Regions from separate parts of the Homo sapiens genome. Here all the other regions are linked to region 3. The links come from fine-mapping of genetic effects on gene expression. A gene starts in region 3. Each other region holds a variant in brackets. All regions are shown on one strand. Distances are between the middles of the regions. Region 1 overlaps LY75-CD302 (LY75-CD302 readthrough). Region 2 has its middle 48 kb from the start of BAZ2B. Region 3 holds the start of CD302 (CD302 molecule). Region 4 overlaps MARCHF7 (membrane associated ring-CH-type finger 7). Region 5 overlaps MARCHF7 (membrane associated ring-CH-type finger 7).

Region 1 (4,203 bases), 62 kb before region 3:
TGATCTCTAACTCCTGACCCTGTGATCCACCCGCCTCAGCCTCCCAAAGTGCTGGGATTACAGGTGTGAGCTACCGTGCCCTTCCACGCCCAGCTAATTCTTATATTTTTTTGTAGAGATAGGGTTTCACCATGTTGCCCAGGCTGGTCTCAAACTCCTGAGCTCAGGCAGTCTACCCATCTTAGCCTCCCAAAGTGTTGGAATTACAGGTGTGAGCCACATCTGGCCACAAGTGATTGTTTTCAAAGCTTTCTCTTTATACTGTTTATTTTCATTTTTATAGTAAGAAGCTTTTCTTTTTATTATCTAAATATGGAAGAGTTATACAAAAAATAAAATATCTTTTTCTGGGGGGACTAGGTGGGGATGACAGAGTCTCACTGTGTCACCCAGGCTAGAATACAGTGGTGCCAGTATGACTCACTGCAGCCTCAACCTCCTGGGTTCAATTGATCCTCATGTCTCAGCCTCTCAAGTACAGGCACATGCCACCACATCCAGCTAATTTTTGTATTTTTTGTAGAGATGGGGTTTCACCATGTTGCCCAGGCTGGTCTCGAATTCCTGGGCTCAAGCCATCTGCCAACCTTGGCCTCCCAAAGTGCTGGGATTACCAGCATGAGTCACTGTGCCTGGCCAAAAGTATCCTTATTGGAGGAAATTATTTGTTTGGAGAAACCTCTAGAAAATCCTTGCTATTATTCCACATTTATATTATAAGGATATATTAGTGTAATAGTTATAGGAGCAAAATTATTCTCAGATATTCAATATTTACTCCAATTTTTGTCACCAAAAATTGGTGACTCCAATGTCACCTCCTTTTTTATTCTTTCTAAATGTAAAACTCCTTGAGTTTATTTTCAAATTGGAGCATATCTGAGATTAGTTAATCAAATAATGAGCATTTCAACACATGCAAAAAAAGAAAAAAGTATTTTGCAAACCTGATTCTCTATGACTCCAGCGGCGAACTTAATACACTATTAACTTCCACTTCTGAAACTGTGGCTTCCTTTGTTTGGAAACTTATGACATTATGACATTTGCTAAGTCCTCTCATGATTTAGCATCATGATATAAAAAAGAGATGGAAAAGTTTTCTTTCTGTGGCATATCAACGCACTTGAGTGATTAAGGCTGCCTAAATTACATCTAAATTGCAAATATTTATACATCAGTCTTAAATTCTCAAGCCTCTCTTGTCTTTTCAGGTGTCTACTATTATCATGCCAAATGAGTTTCAGCAGGATTATGACATCAGAGACTGTGCTGCTGTCAAGGTCAGTACAATGCTGGAAAATCTGCATATTTAAAACATAAGTCCATCATCATATGCAGTCAAGTAACAGATCCATGGAGTGTCTTTTTATGTGAAGCATGATGTTAGATGCAGTGAGAGATAAGCACACCCATGGCCTGGCCCTCAGCAGCCTAACTTACACTTCATTTGAGAGGATAAAATTCATATTCAAGAAAACCTCTCTCATTACCACGCAGTAATATGCTCCAAATGAGGGGGCTGAGGAAGGCTAATGAAATTCAGAGGAGAAAGTGAGTCCCATGGCCATTTCCCAGGAAGAGGTGGGACTTGAACTGGGACTTTAAGGATGGATAGAGTTTCTACAAATGGGATAGGGTAAGGTTTTTTCATGAGGGGATGGTATGAGAAAGTGGTATAAAATAAGGTGGAAGTGGAAGAGGGCAGTGGAGAACAGAATACAGATCAAGAAGTTTCATTGGTGCTGTCCTTGATAACAGTATTAGGAAATCAGATTGATGCCACTTTAAGGAATTTCTACACTTCTTGATAGGCAACAGGGCATTTTTTAAAGTTTCTGAGTAGGGAGGGTCACATGAACTAAGGAGGGTATGAGGAAGATTCATCTTGAGACAGATGTCAAAAGCAACAGGTAAGATTGGAAGGCATAGAAGACCAGTGAGGCATCTTCCTTTGCAGAATGCATTCATGTATCCATTTCATAAACAGTCCAAGGAGTCAGTGAGGCACTGGGTGATAGAACAATGACAAGGTACAAAGCATAGCCATTGTCTTCACAAAACTAAAGTCTAGTAGGAAATAAAGACAAGTAAACAAGCAATTACAACACCACTGAGTAAAGACTATGACATGCGAAATACAAGTTTTATGCAAGAACAAGAATATTATGAAAGAATAATAAGGATGGTGATGGTGATGGTCCATGGTGGTGGTGATGATGATGATGGAGCAGCTAACACTGATTAACTCCTTTATGAGCCAGCCACTATACTAGGCATGTCACATATGTCACATAGCACATAAGCAATCTTGTGAGGTAGGCACTGTTACTGTATTCATCTCACATGGAAATTTGAGCTGTGAGTAATTTACCCCAGCTTACATGGAGTAAATTTAAACTGAAAGAACTGAAATTTACACCCATGTGTGTCTGGGTCTGGTACTCTTAACCACTATGCTATATGACTAGGCATTTATAGAAATAGAAAGGGTATTGATTTATGAGAAAATTGTATGTTTTAGTTCAGATATTTTGAATCCAAGCTAGCTATAA[G/A]ATGTATGCTATGGTAAGTTGAGATCAAGAGTCTTGAGTTGAAAGGAAAATGTATATTTTTAAAAAAAGGGCCAAGAAGTGGATTTGGAGGAACTGCCAATATATAGAGTGAAAAAAGATGAAGATGGAGGAGACATCAGTTAATATCTTTGATTTGTAGTCCAAGAAAGAGATTCAACAAGGTGGCTGACCAGAAATGTTACAGGAAGGCTGAGGGATATAAGAACTGACAAAACCACAGGAAAGCACTGTTTTCAAAGTAACTCTTCTAGTAATAAACTGTGTAGTACATGTCATTTTTATAGAATTCCCAATGTAACACAGGAAAAGGTGAAAACTTCAGAGAAGCTTATGGAATTTTTAGTAGTGTTGAGAACACTGGTACAATAAACTGTGTTCTAGGGAAATAGAGTTGCCAAGTATGGAGAGATTTGAAAATCTACCAAATAAATAAAGAGATACTAATGCAACCTGCATCAGGAACAAGCCCAGCCAGGGCAGTGTTCTGTAAGGAAAATCTTACCTCACCTGCCACAGAACCCCCAGAAACTTGGTCTTAAGAGAAAATAGTCTAAGAAGTGATGGATGTCTCTCCCAAGTAATGCCTTCCCCTATCCTTTTTATCCTACTTGCTGACTGGAATTTGTAATGAGCCATCCTGGACCATGTGGAGAAGGGCAAAATCCTAGAAATGGCATGGTAACACCAGAGAAGGAGCCTGAGCCACTGAGGCTGGACCTTTATGTCGCTTTCTGATCTAATTTGATCACAGCTTGGTGCTTGGATACCTCTGAAATAAATATTCTAACAAAAATTGTCAGGTGTGGGGGAGAAAATTTGCATTTTGGACATAAACATGACTTTACAACATATTTCCTTTGTTAGCCCCTTTGAGGGCTCTTGCTCAGGGTATTACTGTTTAAATATTCCATTAATTCATGTGTTCATTTATCGAACAAATATCTTAGGTGCTAGAGCTAAAATAGAGATCAAAGTCATAGGGCTTACAGTTTAGTGTTCCATAAGGGATGTATCAACTTCAAAATATTCTGCAATACTTTTCCTCTTATAGGTATTTCATAGGCCATGGCGAAGAGGCTGGCATTTCTATGATGATAGAGAATTTATTTATTTGAGGCCTTTTGCTTGTGATACAAAACTTGAATGGGTGTGCCAAATTCCAAAAGGTAAGTGGTAGTTATTCCTTTTCACAACCTTCTCATGTTAACATTGTGAATGCCTAGCTCAAAGTAGCTAGGGGAGCATTTTGATCTATAATTCTGATGTCTAAAAGCCTATGATGATGATGCAATTAATATGTGGAGCACCCCCTGCCTGACTCCGGCTTCTAATAGAAGGCTAGCTTATTGAAATTTAGTGATATCTTACTCTTTGATCATGGAAGAATTTGCATAGAAGATAAAATGTGAGGCTCATTCAGGGAGATTAGATTTTGGATGAAATATTATTTTAAGCAAAAGGAGAAATGCAGAATCATTTTCGTTTTTATTTTGATGCAAAATGAAAAAATAAAGATAATCTTGGGAAGAATAAGGCAGAAGTCAAGAAATAAAAATTTGGCAGGTCCCTGTAAAATTTAGAAGCAATTTTCAATGAACTATAAAACTGCTAATACTTTATATAAATT
Region 2 (4,203 bases), 130 kb after region 3:
CTAGCCTGGGCGACAGAGCGAGACCCTGTCTCAAAAAAAAAAAAAAAAAAAAGAATCATAAAAAAATATAATAAATTGGCCTTTTTTTAAAGATCAAAATTTAAAACTTTTGCTCTTTGAAAACACACTTAATAAAATGAAAATGCAGTGCATGCATGGAGGAACAATATTGTAAATATATATCAAAGGACTGGGACTTGCTTGCAGGATATTAACAGAACTTTTACAACTCAATAACAAGAAGAACGTGACCCATTTAACAAATGAACAAAAGTTTTGCCTAGGTACATCATAAAAGGATACATGAATGTGAAAATAACCACATGAAAATATGCCCAACATCATTAGTCAACAGGGAAATGCAAATTAAAACCAAAGACACCCATTTCACACACATTACAATTGTTAAAACTAAAAAAGATGTCCATATGGGATGCTGTTTAGGATGTGCACCAACTAGAATTTGCAAACACTGATGGTGGACGTGTAAAATGGAATCCACCTTAGAAAATGGTTTGACACGCCTATGTCCTGAATGGTAATGCCTAGGTTTTCTTCTAGGGTTTTTATGGTTTTAGGTCTAACGTTTAAATCTTTAATCCATCTTGAATTGATTTTTGTATAAGGTGTAAGGAAGGGATCCAGTTTCAGCTTTCTACATATGGCTAGCCAGTTTTCCCAGCACCATTTATTAAATAGGGAATCCTTTCCCCATTGCTTGTTTTTCTCAGGTTTGTCAAAGATCAGATAGTTGTAGATATGCGGCGTTATTTCTGAGGGCTCTGTTCTGTTCCATTGATCTATATCTCTGTTTTGGTACCAGTACCATGCTGTTTTGGTTACTGTAGCCTTGTAGTATAGTTTGAAGTCAGGTAGTGTGATGCCTCCAGCTTTGTTCTTTTGGCTTAGGATTGACTTGGTGATGTGGGCTCTTTTTTGGTTCCATATGAACTTTAAAGTAGTTTTTTCCAATTCTGTGAAGAAAGTCATTGGTAGCTTGATGGGGATGGCATTGAATCTGTAAATTACCTTGGGCAGTATGGCCATTTTCACGATATTGATTCTTCCTACCCATGAGCATGGAATGTTCTTCCATTTGTTTGTGTCCTCTTTTATTTCCTTGAGCAGTGGTTTGTAGTTCTCCTTGAAGAGGTCCTTCACATCCCTTGTAAGTTGGATTCCTAGGTATTTTATTCTCTTTGAAGCAATTGTGAATGGGAGTTCACCCATGATTTGGCTCTCTGTTTGTCTGTTGTTGGTGTATAAGAATGCTTGTGATTTTTGTACATTGATTTTGTATCCTGAGACTTTGCTGAAGTTGCTTATCAGCTTAAGGAGATTTTGGGCTGAGACGATGGGGCAAGGACTTCATGTCCAAAACACCAAAAGCAATGGCAACAAAAGCCAAAATTGACAAATGGGATCTAATTAAACTAAAGAGCTTCTGCACAGCAAAAGAAACTACCATCAGAGTGAACAGGCAACCTACAAAATGGGAGAAAATTTTCGCAACCTACTCATCTGACAAAGGGCTAATATCCAGAATCTACAATGAACTCAAACAAATTTACAAGAAAAAAACAAACAACCCCATCAAAAAGTGGGCGAAGGACATGAACAGACACTTCTCAAAAGAAGACATTTATGCAGCCAAAAAACACATGAAGAAATGCTCATCATCACTGGCCATCAGAGAAATGCAAATCAAAACCACTATGAGATATCATCTCACACCAGTTAGAATGGCAGTCATTAAAAAGTCAGGAAACAACAGGTGCTGGAGAGGATGTGGAGAAATAGGAACACTTTTACACTGTTGGTGGGACTGTAAACTAGTTCAACCATTGTGGAAGTCAGTGTGGCGATTCCTCAGGGATCTAGAACTAGAAATACCATTTGACCCAGCCATCCCATTACTGGGTATATACCCAAAGGACTATAAATCATGCTGCTATAAAGACACATGCACACGTATGTTTATTGCGGCACTATTCACAATAGCAAAGACTTGGAACCAACCCAAATGTCCAACAATGATAGACTGGATTAAGAAAATGTGGCACATATACACCATGGAATACTATGCAGCCATAAAAAATGATGAGTTCATGTCCTTTGTAGGGACATGGATGAAATTGGAAACCATCATTCTCAGTAAACTATCGCAAGAACAAAAAACCAAACACCGCATATTCTCACTCATAGGTGGGAATTGAACAATGAGATCACATGGACACAGGAAGGGGAATATCACACTCTGGGGACTGTGGTGGGGTCGGGGGAGGGGGGAGGGATAGCATTGGGAGATATACCTAATGCTAGATGACACGTTAGTGGGTGCAGCGCACCAGCATGGCACATGTATACATATGTAACTAACCTGCACAATGTGCACATGTACCCTAAAACTTAGAGTATAATTAAAAAAAAAAAAAAAAAAAAAA[AAAAAAAAAAG/G]AAAATGGTTTGACAGTTTCTTAAAAGTTAGCAACAGGCAGCCGGGCCCGGTGGCTCACACCTGTAATCCCAGCATTTTTGGAGGCCAAGGCAAGCAGATCACGAGGTCAGGAGTTCAAGACCAGCCTGGCCAACATAGTGAAACCCCGTCTCTACCAAAAATACAAAAATTAGCCGACGTGGTGGCATGTGCCTGTAATACCAGCTGCTCGGGAGGCTGAGGCAGGAGAATCGCTTGAACCCAGGAGGCAGAGGTTGCAGTGAGCCAAAACCAGACCACGCCATTGCATTCCAGCCTGGGTGACAGAGTGTGACTCCATCTCAAAAAAGAAAAAAAAAAAACATTAGCAACAGGCTGTGCGTGGTGGCTTACACCTGTAATCCCAGCACTTTGGGAGGCCAAGGCGGGAGGATCACCTGAGGTCAGGAGTTTGAGACCAGCCTGACCAACATAGTGAAACTGCATCTCTACTAAAAACACAAAAAATTAGCTGGGCGTGGTGGCACACACCTGTAATCCCAGCTACTTGGGAGGCTGAGGCAGGAGAATTGCTTGAGCCTGGGAGGCGGAGGTTGCAGTGAGCTGAGATCATGCCACTGCACTCCAGCCTGGCCGACAGTGAGACTCTGTCTCAAAAAAAAAAAGAAAAAAAAGAAAAAAAAAACAACAACAAAAGAAAATTAGATAAATTAGACTTTGCCAATGTTAAAACTTTTGTCCTAGGGTCACCATCAAAAAGGTAAAAGACCACCAACAGAATGGGAGAAATATTTGCAAATCATACATTTAATAAGAAACTTGTATCTTGAATATATAAATACCACTTACAATTCAATAAAAAGCTCATTTTAAAAAATGGACAAAGAATCAAAATACATATTTATCTAAAGAAGGTATATAAATGGTTTATAAGCACATGAAATTATGTTCAACATCATTAGCCATCAGGGAAATGAAAATCAAAATGACAATAAGATACTAATTCACAACCACTAGGATGGCTGTTTAAAAACCGAAAGTAAGGGCTGGGCGCAGTGGCTCACTCCGGTAATCCCAGCACTTTGGGAGGCTGAGGCAGGTGGATCATTTGAGGTCAGGAGTTCAAAGCCAGCCTGGCCAACATGGTGAAACCCCATGTCTACTAAAAATACAAAAAAAAAAAATTAGCCGGGCATGGTGGTGGGCACCTGTAATCTCAGCTACTCGGGAGGCTGAGGCAGGAGAATCACTTGAGCCCGGGAAGCAGAGATTGCAGTGAGCAGAGATCACGCCATTGCACTCCAGCCTGGGCTACAGCAAGCCTTCATCTCAAAAACAAAACAAAGCGAAACAAACAAACAAAAGTAAAAAACAAGAACCAGTGAGAATGTGGAAATATTGGAACCTCTCATATGGTGCTGGCAGGTATGTAAAGTGGTTCAGCCACTGTGTGGAAAACAGTTTGGCAGTACATGAAAAAGCTAAACATAGAAATACCATATAACCAAACAATTCTACATTTAGGTATATACCTTAAATAATTAAAAACAGATACCCAAACAAATACTTGTGCATGAATGTTTATAGTAGTACTATATACAATTGCCAAAAGGTGGAAAGAACTAAATGTCCATCAACAGATCAATAAGCAAATTGTGGTATAATCTATCCAATGGAATATTATTTTTGGCCAACAAAAAGGAATAGTGGTGCATGCTACAGTGCAGATGAGCCTTGATAACATGCCAAGTGAAAGCAACCAAATACAC
Region 3 (4,203 bases):
TTGTCTAAAATGTCATATAGTTGGAATCATATAGTATGCAGTCTTTTCAGATTGGCTTCTTTCTCTTAGCAATACATATTTAAAGTTCTTCCATGTCTTTTTGTGGCTTGATAGCTCATTTAATTTTGGTACTGAGTAACATTTCATTGTTTGGATGTGCCATTGTTTATCCATTCACTTATTGAAGGACATCTTGTTTGCCTCTAGGTTCTGGCAATTATGAATAAAGCTGCTATCAACATTCATGTGCAGGTTTTTGTGTGTATGTAAGTTTTTAACTCATTTGGATAAATACCAAGGAGTTGTGATTGCTAGATGGTATGGTAAGAGTACGTTTAGTTTTGGAAGAAGCTTCCAAATTGTCTTCCAAAGTGGCTGTACCATTTTGCATTTGCACCAGCATTGAATGAGAGTTCTTTTTGCTCCACATCTTTGCCAGCATGTGGTCTTGTCAGTGTTTTTGGATTCTGGTATCTAATAGGTATGTAGTGGTATTTCATTTTTGTTTTCATATACAATTCAGCAATGACATATGATGTTGAGCATCTTTTCATCTATTTGCCATTATATAACTTCTTTGATGACGTGTGTATTCAGATCATCTGACCATTTTTTTTAACTGGGTCATTTGTTTTCACGTTGTTGAGTTTAGACTTGATTTTATAGAACTCTTTTGCCAATGACATGAGGCTTAAACAAGCACCCTTGCTTGACCCTGGCTAGTGTTGTCCAGAGGCCCTCATGGGTGAAGTATAATTGCACAGTTTATGCATACATTGTAGCAAACATAGCTTAAAGACTCTTCATCCAGGAGCTGGTAACAGAGAAAAGTTGTCTAAGAGACATAGTCCACTGAAAGGGGTCTTTGAAAAGGAGGATTCTGGCCAGTAGATCCAAAGAAGAAGGCTGGCAAACGCCACCTTAACCAACTGATCCAAGTTAACATCAGTGATGAGACATCGACATCTTGTCCTTCTCGAGCACGTACATCACTTCTGGGGAACTCTTTCCCAAAAAAGCGCAACCTGAATCCAATTAGAAGGAAATGTCAGACAAAATGAAACTGAGGGACATTCTACAAAACGACTGGCCAGTACTTTTTAAATGTGGTTTGATCGTGAAAGAAAAAGAATGACAGAGAACCGTCCTAGATTAAAGGGAGACTAAGGAGACACGACATGCAATGTATGATCCTGGATTGAATCTTGGAACAGAAAAGGACCCTTAGAGGGGCAATTAATGAAATGTGGTAAGTGCTGTAGATTAGCTAATCGCATTATCCCAGTGCGAGTGCCCTGTGTTTGATCACTGCACTGGCGTTATATACAATGTCAATATTTAGAGAAGCTGGCTGAAGGGTTACGGAAATCTCTTGTGCTGTTTTTGCAACATTTTCGAAAGTCCTAAATTATTTCAATTCAAATGAAAAGTTTAAAAAACAAAAATTAGAAGTTCCAGAAGGCCGCGCGCCAGCCGCTCCTGCGGGACGGGACACCCGGGTTCTCCTGGTGGGAGCCCCCAGTGCCGTTCACGTTCCGCCCGGGGGGGGGATTAAACTCGCACGCGAGAAGCACCGCCCCCGCTCCCGCCCCGCCCCGCTCCTCTCCGGCCGCGCAGCCGCTGCCGCCCACCCGCACCCGCCGTCATGCTCCGGGCCGCGCTGCCCGCGCTCCTGCTGCCGTTGCTGGGCCTCGCCGCTGCTGCCGTCGCGGGTAAGCCCTTACGTAGTCCCTCGCCGGGACCGTGCGCGACCGCCTTCGCCCCCTTCCCAACGCACGCTCTTCGTCCCCGCGCACCCGAGGGCGGCCCGCAGACGCAACACCCGGCCGGCCATCCCGCCCTTCCCTGCACGCCCGTCCCCCGTGGGTCCTGGCTCCGGGTCACCTCTCACCCGCCTGCCCTCGGGGAGGGGAGGTGGCCGAGAATAAGGGAGGGCTCTGTCTTCCTCGGAGTCCACATCCTCACCGCAGACCCCACTCCGCGGGGAGGGAACCCCCAAATTAGGCCAGTTGGCCGGAGAACTGAGGGACTTGGAGTCGCACGACGGGCGCCGTTTCAGGGCAATTTCGGGCTGAAATGAGAAGCGGGGACGTTGGTGGCGATTTCCCCTGCTGGTGCGCGGCCGGAGTGGGGTTGCTGGGATGGGGGTGGGGGCCGGAGGAAGTAGGCCCTCTTTTGCAAGCAGCGCTGTTTGTCTAGTTGGTTGGTGTTCAAGTTGTTTAAACAGGAAAACAGTTCAGCCAAATAACCCCTGGATGGAAGAGGAACGGGAATAGGCAAAGCTTGGATTTCACTGAAATCAAGGAGTTTTAAAGTTCTAGTCTGCTGTTGTGCAAGTGACATCTGAAAAATCACACACGTGATCATTCATTTACAAAACGACTCGTGAGGAAAATGCACAATTCTATTGACCGTGGTCTTTATTTTTAAAAAATTTCCATACAAGCATGTCAAAAATATGTGGATGGGGAGACTCTGGAGAACACAGACTTCCAAAAACACCACTGACTGAATAATTCCAGGAATTAAAGAGCAAAATAAACAAGAACTAAATGAGTACTTGTGTGGGCTTAAATAAAGTGCAAGAGATTTAAATAAAATGCAAGAGATTCCCCCCCCCCACCCCTTGCCCCAGATTTCACTGCGTTTTTATAATAACTGCCTGCTCGAAGTCTACTGACAGGAATATTTCAGTGGACCTCAGTGTTGGAGGCAGCAGCAGCTCAGAACTTGGATACAAACCCAAGGTTCCTTTCTTGAAAACTTCTGTGGACCTGCATTTATGACTGGTTGTGACATCTGCTGCCTATCAAAGGGGCAGAAACAAGATGTGCCCATGTTCACATTGTTCAGACTGGGAACATTAATTTTGTCTAAGACAAAGCTGGGCTGTCTCTGAACCCTCCTTCTGCACACCCTCATTTTGCGAGCCAGTAACATCTCAACTCTCATGTAAACCACCCTCTGCGAGGCTGTGCATTTGTACTTTAGGCTAGTCGAATTTTCTTGTCAGATTTTTCTTTCTTGTCAGACTTTTAAAGAAAATCAGTTTCTAGATTTTGGTATGTCTCTTCTTCAGTGAAGCTGTTTTGACCAGCAATAGAGGGCAAATTTCCCTTTGGAAATTTTTGTGCATTTCCTTTGATAAGTCCAGTGTGGATCAATAGGCTTTTCAAGAGCTTTAGAAAAGTGCATGATGAATAAATTAATGTTAATTAATCAGCTCCTCCCAGTCAGGAAGCTTTAAGGATTAATTTGGAAATGAGTGTGAGCTTTGACCTAGCTAGTTAACCAACTTATCTGCACTTCAGTAAAACAGAGATAATACTTACTCATGGGGCTATTGGGAGCATTAAGTGGGAACTCCACGTCTAGTCCCTATTACAGGCGTGGTTCATCTTGGTTTCCTTCCCTTTATTCTCTTCATACAAAATGAAGGGTAATTGTTGCAACCAGAAAACGTATGAATACCACCTTATGTATATTGGATGTTTATGGTTACTGAACACATTCATATGTATGCTAATGTTATAGGGCTGAAAAACTAAGTGTGTTTTTCATAATACTTTACAAATCTCCCATCCAAGCAAGATCAGGGGTCATATTTGGCTTAGAACTAAGTCAAGAAAGAGTTTGTTGCTGAATACCAAGATCTTAATAGAAAAGCTCTTATGATGTTGCATAATAAATATGGGTATTGCATATAAATGTGATGTTGAAACGGAAATCATTGTTATTGTCTGTCATTCTGGAGGTTATTAGTGAAGTGATCTTAACCTTGTTCTTAGCTATTATTTTGAAAATCACAGTGGACAAAACATTCTTTAAATTCCTGAGTGAAAATCCATGGCATCGCTTTAAAAAGTTTTTCCGTAAGGGTGCTTAAGCACATAATAGATGATCAGTATGTATTTATTTGGTCAGTGGTTTCCTATGCCTGGCATGAGCTGAGTGAACAAGCATGTTCCGAGTAAGTCCTCATTCTGTGATCATCATGTGGATCAGAATCTAGGGATTTTGAATTGCCATGTCCTACAAGCCTTAGATGAGGTGCCTCTGCCTTCTTCCCTGATGTCATCTCTTACCACCCTTCCTGCCATTCACTCTGTGTATCCACAGAGTAAACAGTATCTGGGTACTCCAACACCTCTGGTCCTTCTGTGCACACCACCTTCCCCCAGTCCTTGGCATGGCTGCCCCCAC
Region 4 (4,000 bases), 32 kb after region 3:
CTCCGTCTTCTTCGGAATCATCCTCTGAAGCTGTTGAAAGAAAACAGGATGATCAAGAATGATTTTAAGGGGGATAAGAATGGGAAGTGTAAATATGAAGCCAGAACAGCAATGACTTGTAAAAACAAAAATCCCAATTTAGTATATTGTTTGATCAAAATGATAAGTTGTATGACAGGGTTAGGGTGGTCTGCCTGTGGGTGATACCCAACCACAATTCTCCCCGCCCCCACACCGTTTTGTAATGTTATATCAATTTTTATAAAAATGAAAGTGCTTAAAAATGTGGTTCAAGAGCATCTTCTAAAATGTTTCTGAGATCAATCTGTGTTCATAGTAGCTAATGATATATAAACACTAGGAAAAAAGTCAACTTAAGGCAAGTGCTCTCACACACCTGAGTAAAATCTGGCTTATTACCGCTGCATGTTTGGTGCATCCGATGAGAATGAAAAGAAGTGTACATAGAATAAGAGGTTATGGGTGTTCTTGCAATTTACATCAAAGCTATGTCTATACAATGCCAAGATAAAAGTTCATTTAGTAAGTCAAAAAAGCTTCATATAGACACAGCCTAAATTAAAATAATTGGATTCAGTAAAAACCTACTGTTGAGATTATTCCCCTGTCTCCACACTGCCAGAAACTTACCACTTTTGCAACATTTCTGACCTCAATTTATTCAAGAGTCACTAGTGGCTCAAGAGTTAAAAATAAAGCATCCTGGGTGTCTTTAGGAAAGACATAGTAAGTGTAAAACTATGAATTCTATGAACTGCTTTGCACGTGTAAGAAAATGCAAGCTCACTAAAATAAACATCTAACCAGCATCTTTCCCCCATTATAGGGCAAAACGGTTTAATGCCCTCTCTTTTTATATTTACATTGGACAAATTAAGAGCATCCAACAAATGGAATCAACCTAGGGCAAAGCACAGAAAAACTATGCAACACTAATAGATTTAAATCCATTTAATAAATGACAAAGCATATAACTAAGTCATGACTGATAATAAACTCTACTGTTAAGTTTTATGCTCTATCACTGAGAAATACCAAACTAAAAAATTACAGCTTATTAAGGAACTTCTTGTGTTTTTCCATTTAACTCCACTCCACAGGAGAGGATAATTTAGTCAGAACCCATTTCAGAATGTACTAATACTCTGATATTTAGGGGTTAACTTGCAGCACCCTTGTCTTTCATGCTTATTTGAGTATGGACATATTTCACCTCCATCTTTTTCTTCCCACATGTTAGGAGCAGACAATACTATGTTTAAGAAACTAAATTTTAAACGAGAATGTTAGTTTTTTAAAATGGAGAAATCTGGGGAAAACATACACTGAAACAAATTACTATCATGACGTTGGACAAAGTATAAATTGTAATTTAAAAAAACAAAGAAGAGACCTTTGTATTAGGCCAACCTAAGGGATCTGAAAGAAGGTATAAAGGGAAAAAATTTTATACCAAGTGAATTCACACTGACTCCTTTCTTTTCACATATCCTAATTAAAACTGTGAAAATATGTTACCTGGTTTCATCTCAAAACCTTTAAAAACTTGAAAGTAGTATAGACAATGACAAAAATCTATGTTTTAGATTATCTAGAATTAAAAAGTTCCTATGAGGACTAAGTCCTTTTTAAACCTTACTTCAAAGGATGCTGAGCTTTCTCTAAAAGTAAAAATGTTATGCACACTATAGATAACACTCCAAATAGTCTGAAGATGAGTATAGAAGTATTCAACTGAAGAATACGTATTTTAAAAAGACACTTTGGATAGTGTTTTGGAATGGGCAACAAAGGGTGAAAAAGTAAAATATGTAGGGGTTGGGTGGGGTAATCTTCAATTTCTAGAAACTATTCCAGAGCCACCAATACCTATGCCCACATGGTATGAAGCACACTGGAAGTTACAGGACATTAAGAAGAGGGTAGGCTGTATAGATGCCTGTAGAGATTTGAGAATTAAGTGCCTTCACTTATAATCCCAGCCAGAAATCCTGATGCTGGAATGTGATCTTAAGAGATTTGAGCTGTTGGCAGAGCTGGCTACCTATTAAAGGTCCATGAGGACCTACAAAAAGCCAAAAAAAAACCCACTACCACCACCACCAACAACAAAAAACCCACAAAACAAAGCCCTTCATGGCTTCTGATATGGATTCAGAATTAGGACTCCTTGTCCCATATTTTCCTGGAATCATAGGTAAGCCCAGGAATAATCTCTTATGATCTAACAAACCTGAGTAACAGGTAAAATTTCTTACCAGAAACGAAACAAAACAAAATCCTAACAGATTAAGAAATGTTGGTTTGATTAGTAGTTAAGATTTATGCCTTTTTTATTATAAATCCTGAAATCAAGGTGATCAACAATAAATTTCTCTTTGAAAAAAAAAAGTAAAATGCAGTTAAAATTACATGCTTCCATACCTTAAAATATGCTTAAAAAAAAAAA[C/AC]AACTAATGTCAGTTTCCCAACCCATATTTCCCAAATCAATCATTTTGGTATTACTAAGCCTATAAATGAGCTCTAATTTGGCAGAACAGAGTATATACTTAGGTTTTGCTTTGGGTTTAATTTGCAAAAGTAAATTCAACAAGTCTGGGGAGGGGAAATTCCACCTACTTTCGAGATCTTCCATATGTGCCTGAAGAGTTCTTGCAAGGTTAATAAACTAGAAACAATGCAGAAAGAAATACAGTAGTTTAAATGTTGCAAATGGATCTAAAGAGAGAATCAGTATAGGAGATTCATTTCTACTTAAAAAGTCAAACATCAGTTTAAGCCTTTAAATAGGGGTTTTTCTCCCCCTAACATCAAAAATCACAAGCTTAATGGCATTAATTTTTAAATGTTTTATATAATCTTTATAATCATGTAGAAACCAGTTTTTTAAAATTGGGAGCAGATACAATAATTTTATCCAATGATATTGTCTTCTTATAAACACTTCAAAAAATTACGAAATGGAGGAAAAAAAACAAAAAACAAAAAACCACCCTTGTATTTGGACCCAAATAAATTCAGTTTCAGTGGGCGCGCGCACACACACACACACACACACACACACACACACACACACACACAAAACTCCCAAGAACCAATATTTTCCTACCTAAATTTGATAAAAGTATACAGTTCTATACATTAAAAAAAATCCTAATGACTTCCACTTTGGAGTATCATCCAAAATTCTGTAATTTTCCACTGTAAAACTTGTTAATATGAACTTTTAAAAACACATGAATTCAGAAGTTCTTAAATGTTTTATATGGTTTATTCATCCTGAAGACTTAAGGTACCTTTTTAGAAATCATTTTACGGTATTAAGGTTTTAGGGGCTCACAATTTGTAAAGTACTTAGAAGTCAAGAGATCTTTGCTCAAATTCTGAATGCTCTTGATAGATAATATGAATGCTCTTCAATGGTAATTATCTGTTAACCAGCTCACTGGAATAATGTCCACATGATAAAATAAAGAAAAATTTTTTACTAATTTAGAAGGAGTATTACATACATTGAATTGCAGTTATTTGATAATTTTCAAAATAAAAACATTACATGAACTCTACTACACTTTTATCACCGAAGTTAACATGTAAGAAAGTTTGAAGGATATACTTATGAACACATTTCAAGACATGAAGTGTTCAGAATGCTACAATAATGGCAGATACATAGAGACCCTAGCCCTTGCTACACAAAATGGCCCAGACAGCAAAGCATAAAGTTTCCTCTGGTACACTGACACAAAGAGCATCATTTACTTATAAATACCTAACATACAGCTGGCCAAAATGTTGTATTATGGCTAATAGCACACACAGTAAACAACCAACTATTCCATATCTAAAATACTTTGTAATATGGACACTTAAAAATTAGTACACTGGTAATCTTTTGTAGAACAGTAACAAATAAATTGAAGTTAATTTCCCATACTCTTTGGCTTTTGGAGTTCAATTTCAGGTTTCTAAGTGATAAT
Region 5 (4,000 bases), 60 kb after region 3:
CTCACTGTTCATTAAACAATTTTCATGACTCACGACACAACATGTAGATTATATGGCTATATCCAAGACAAAAAATGTTTGTTAATATCAGCATATAGATATACATATCAGTATACATAATGTCAGTATATAGAAGGAATGTTTTGGTTAGTTTTGCTATTGGCTTGAGTTCAAAATCAAACCTTTTCCTGGTTCCTACAATCCAATTTTGTCCATATTTGTTCAAATATCCTCAGTCTGAAGCAATTGTTTTTTTCCCTCGGAATTCTTTGAACAATTAAATAAAGTGTCAGATTCATTTAACAATGTATTATCTCTTCTGCTGTCCAGAACTATAGGCCAAATGAAATCAGGGAATAAGTCTGTCTTCAAAGTATACCACATTGGGCATGACGAATCCTTAAACAAGTAGTTTTGGGGTTGTTTTCACTTATAAACAATGCCGTTATGAACAACTGTAAATTTTTGTATGGATGTATGTTTTCAATACTCTTGGGTGTAACTGATAGATCATGTAGTAACTTGATGTTTGATATTTGGGGGAATTACTATTTTTCCAACTATAGGTTGATGCTAACAGCTGTGATGGCAGCAGCAGTTCATCTGGAGCGGCTGCCACAAAGACGCCGGCTGCAGCAGGGGAGGCGTGGCAGGGTCTGTGCGCTCCACAGAGTCAGCAACAGGTGGGAGCCCTGACCACTTCCAAGTTGGTGGGGTGGGAGCCCTGTGCTCCCTGACCCAGCTGTGGCTGTAGACTTGGGTATCCCTGTGCTCTCAGGGGCCTGAGAAGCCTCCCTTCCCGCCCCCGCCTCCTGCTCCGATTTTGGAGCAAAGTTTTGGCCAAGCTTGGGCACTGTCACGATCCAGGTGTGTATGCGCATGCTTGGGGCAGTGCCGACACACCAGCCCACTGCTACCTTGGCCCCCGTCTGGACTTTGGGCACCAACAAGCACAAAGGGAAGCCAAGGGGGAACTGAGGGTGGCTTGGCATGGGTCTGCAGGCATCCCTTGGCACAAACAGCCTGGGTGCCATGAACAGTAGCAGGAGGCAGACATGCTCCTGGGTGAAAAGGGGCAGGTCCCTAGTGAAACCCTACCTTTAAGCCTGGGATGGCCTGAAGCCTGGAGGCTGGGCTGCCAGTTCCACGGACCGGAGTGAGAACTTATGGTGCTTATCCCAGGCCCACCCATTGCCTCCCATGGACCAATCAGCATGCACTTCCTCTTCTCTGAAGCCCATGAAAATCTGACTCAGCCAGATGTCAGGCTGACTTCCCTATGGACAGGAGCTACCCACTCCTGTCTGGTCTCCTCTCCACTGAAAGCTACACACTCGTTGGGATGACCTGCCTGTGGAAAGGAGCCACCCACTTTGGGTCTCCTGAGAGCTGTGCTACTGCTCAATAAAGCCCCTCTTCGCCTTGCTAACCCTCCAACTGTCTGTGTACCTCATTCTCTCTGGACGTGGGACAAGAACTCGGGACCCGCCAAATGGTGGGACTCGAAGAGCTGTAACACAAACAGTGCTGAAACATCCCTTCCTACCCCCCACTCACCATGCTGCCGGCGACAAGGACGGAAGAGCTCTGACCCTTTGGGGAGTCCAGACCTAGGAGCTCCCTGAACCAGGGCTGTGACAACCTCTTTGGG[G/A]CTCTGTAGTTCCTTGTGTCTCCAAGCTTTTGGGTGCCACTGCGTTCCTCAGTGCCCACAGAAGCTGCTGCCTGTGGTACACCTGATCCATCCACAGCCTCATAGGGCACCAGTGCCTAGAGCTGCCTGCCCCACTGCACCCAGTGTGCCTGGCTGTAAACGGTGGCCGGACCCTGCGCTCACTTGCCCATGCACCCCCTGCCGATCCATGTCTGGCTCACCCTTGGCAGGCGTGGGATCCGAGCTGATAGCACGAGTCGAACAAAGCCTGCCAGTCCGAGTAGGCAGAACACACCCAGCAGGCCCGAGCAAAACCTGGGCAAAGGCACCACCAGCCACAGAGGCTTCTAGCTGGAAAAGCAACACTCCAAGTGCTGACAGCTGTACCATTTTACAGTCCCATCAACTATGTATGAAGGTTCCAATTTCTCCACCACTTACCAACACTGTGATTGTCCATCTTTTTTTTTAATTTTGAGACAGGGTCTCAGCTCTGTTGCCCAGGCTAGAATGCAGTGATGCAATCACAGGTGACTGTGGCCTTGACTTCCTGGGCCCAAGCAATCCTTCCACCTCAGCCTCCAGAGTAGCTGAGACTACAGGCATGCGACACCATGCACAGCTAATTTTTAAATTATTTCTTGGTAGAGACTGGGTCTCACTATGTTGCACAGGTCTCAAATTCCTGGGTTCAAGCAATCCTCCCAGATTTGGCCTCCCAACTCAGGCCTGGGATTACAGGCATGAGTCACTGTGCCCAGCCTATCCATCTTTTTTATTTTGGCTATGCTAGTGGGTGTTAAGTATCTCACTGTAGTTCTGACTTGCATTTCCCTAATGACTAATATTTTTTCATGTGCTTATCAGCCATTAATATATCTTTGGAAAAATGTTTATTAAAGTCCTTTGCCCATTTGAAATTGGGTTATATTTTTATTGTTGAGAGGTAAGAGTTCTTCATATATTCTGGATACAAGTCTCAGTATCCAGTAAGATATATACTTTGCAAATATTTTCTCTCATTCTGTGGATTGTCTTTTCACTCTCTTGGTATCGATGCACACAAATTTTAATTTTTATGAAAACTAATCAATCTTTTTTTGCATTTCCTGCCTCCCGACTATGAGCACTCGTATGAAACTAGATGGAAGCAACTAAATTTACACTGGAGTTTAAAGAGGTTTCTTTCTTTTTCATTAACTTTCCAGTCTCTACCCAGACAGGTAACAGATTTGGCTCCCAGAGTAAATAGTTTTCATCAGTTATTTCCAATTCAAAAGGCTATCTGTGATATGGTGAATTGTATGGTATATGAATTATAACTCAATAAAATGAGGGAAGAGGTGGAGGGCTATCTAGCCCAACCAAAGTAGCTGAAATACTATATAGTGTATCTGAGAAATCATCAATAAGACAGCTTGGAGACTTAATAGCTATAGATACTCTATGCACAATGAATAGAAAATAACTTTCCAAGACTTTATATAACTAGCAGGCATCCAATTTTCATTTTATTTCTTTTTACCTTCATAATAGTTATTCATACCACCTTTCCAACAAGAGGTTTACTGGAAGTATAGTCAATGAAATCATTTACTATTACTATTGTATAAGTCAATATTTGCTTTCAGAAAATTATTTCTAAGGTTTTAAAATATTTTCCCAACACAAATGCCCTTAAAACAATGCAATTAAAAAAATAAAAAAACTTAAGGAGAAAATATTTGCAAATCATGTATCCAATAAGGAGCTTGTATCTAGAATATATAAAGAACACTTACAACTGAGTAACAAGACAAGTGTACTTTAAAATGAGCAAAGGAACTATTATAAATAGGCATTTCTGAAAAATGTACAGTAAACGGCCAATTAGCACATGAAAAGATGTATAACATCATTAGTCATCAAGGAAATCCAAATCAAAACCACAATGAGATACATACCACTTCATACCCATTGGGATGGCTAGAATCAGAAAGTAAGATAAGTGCTGATGAGAATGTGGAGAGACTGGAATCTTCATACACACAAAAGGGAATGTAAAATGATCTAGCCAGTTTGAAAACAGTATGGCAGTTCCCCAAACGATTGAACACAGAGGTTATGCATGACTCGGCAATTCCATTCCCTTATTTTAAGAGACAGGGTCTCACTCTATGGCCCAAGCAGTAGTGAAGTGGTGCCATCATAGCTCACTGAAGCCTCAACCTTATGAGCTTAAGGGATCCTTCCACCTCAGCCTCCCAAAAAGTTAGGACTACAGGTGTGCACCACCATATCAGGTTAGTTTTGAAATTTTTTTAGAGATGGGCTATCACTATATTGCCTAGGCTGGTCTTGTACTCCTGG

The links. PIP is the estimated chance that this variant, and not a neighbour inherited with it, causes the effect.
Region 1: its variant is the best candidate, but not a certain one, in a credible set for the expression of CD302 in whole blood (TOPMed, PIP 0.83).
Region 2: its variant is the best candidate, but not a certain one, in a credible set for the expression of CD302 in whole blood (INTERVAL, PIP 0.58).
Region 4: its variant is the best candidate, but not a certain one, in a credible set for the expression of CD302 in Th17 cells (Schmiedel 2018, PIP 0.77).
Region 5: its variant is the best candidate, but not a certain one, in a credible set for the expression of CD302 in whole blood (TOPMed, PIP 0.55).

Annotation. Positions count from the first base shown.
Region 1 is chr2:159,857,901-159,862,103 of GRCh38, reverse strand. LY75-CD302 (LY75-CD302 readthrough) reads left to right here. Exons shown (of 38, transcript NM_001198760.1): 15 at 1,215-1,283; 16 at 3,628-3,742. It overlaps LY75 (lymphocyte antigen 75), which reads left to right. Exons shown (of 35, transcript NM_002349.4): 15 at 1,215-1,283; 16 at 3,628-3,742. Among named protein-coding and RNA genes, the nearest start is that of LY75, 45 kb to the left of the region's middle. The variant G/A (reference allele first, on the strand shown) is at 2,556.
Region 2 is chr2:159,662,107-159,666,309 of GRCh38, reverse strand. It overlaps a transcript of BAZ2B not described here. Among named protein-coding and RNA genes, the nearest start is that of BAZ2B, 48 kb to the right of the region's middle. The variant AAAAAAAAAAG/G (reference allele first, on the strand shown) is at 2,445.
Region 3 is chr2:159,795,641-159,799,843 of GRCh38, reverse strand. It overlaps CD302 (CD302 molecule), which reads left to right and starts at 1,636. Exons shown (of 6, transcript NM_014880.5): 1 at 1,636-1,712. The coding sequence starts at 1,646. All of the region lies in intron 33 of LY75-CD302 (LY75-CD302 readthrough), which reads left to right. LOC124906083 (a long non-coding RNA gene) reads right to left here. Exons shown (of 2, transcript XR_007087273.1): 1 at 1,892-4,203; 2 at 1-1,025.
Region 4 is chr2:159,763,314-159,767,313 of GRCh38, reverse strand. MARCHF7 (membrane associated ring-CH-type finger 7) reads right to left here. Exons shown (of 12, transcript NM_001282805.2): 11 at 2,640-2,688; 12 at 1-30. Among named protein-coding and RNA genes, the nearest start is that of CD302, 33 kb to the left of the region's middle. The variant C/AC (reference allele first, on the strand shown) is at 2,471.
Region 5 is chr2:159,735,916-159,739,915 of GRCh38, reverse strand. The region is part of intron 4 of MARCHF7 (membrane associated ring-CH-type finger 7); the gene reads right to left. Among named protein-coding and RNA genes, the nearest start is that of MARCHF7, 25 kb to the right of the region's middle. RefSeq lists an enhancer at 1,335-2,327. The variant G/A (reference allele first, on the strand shown) is at 1,652.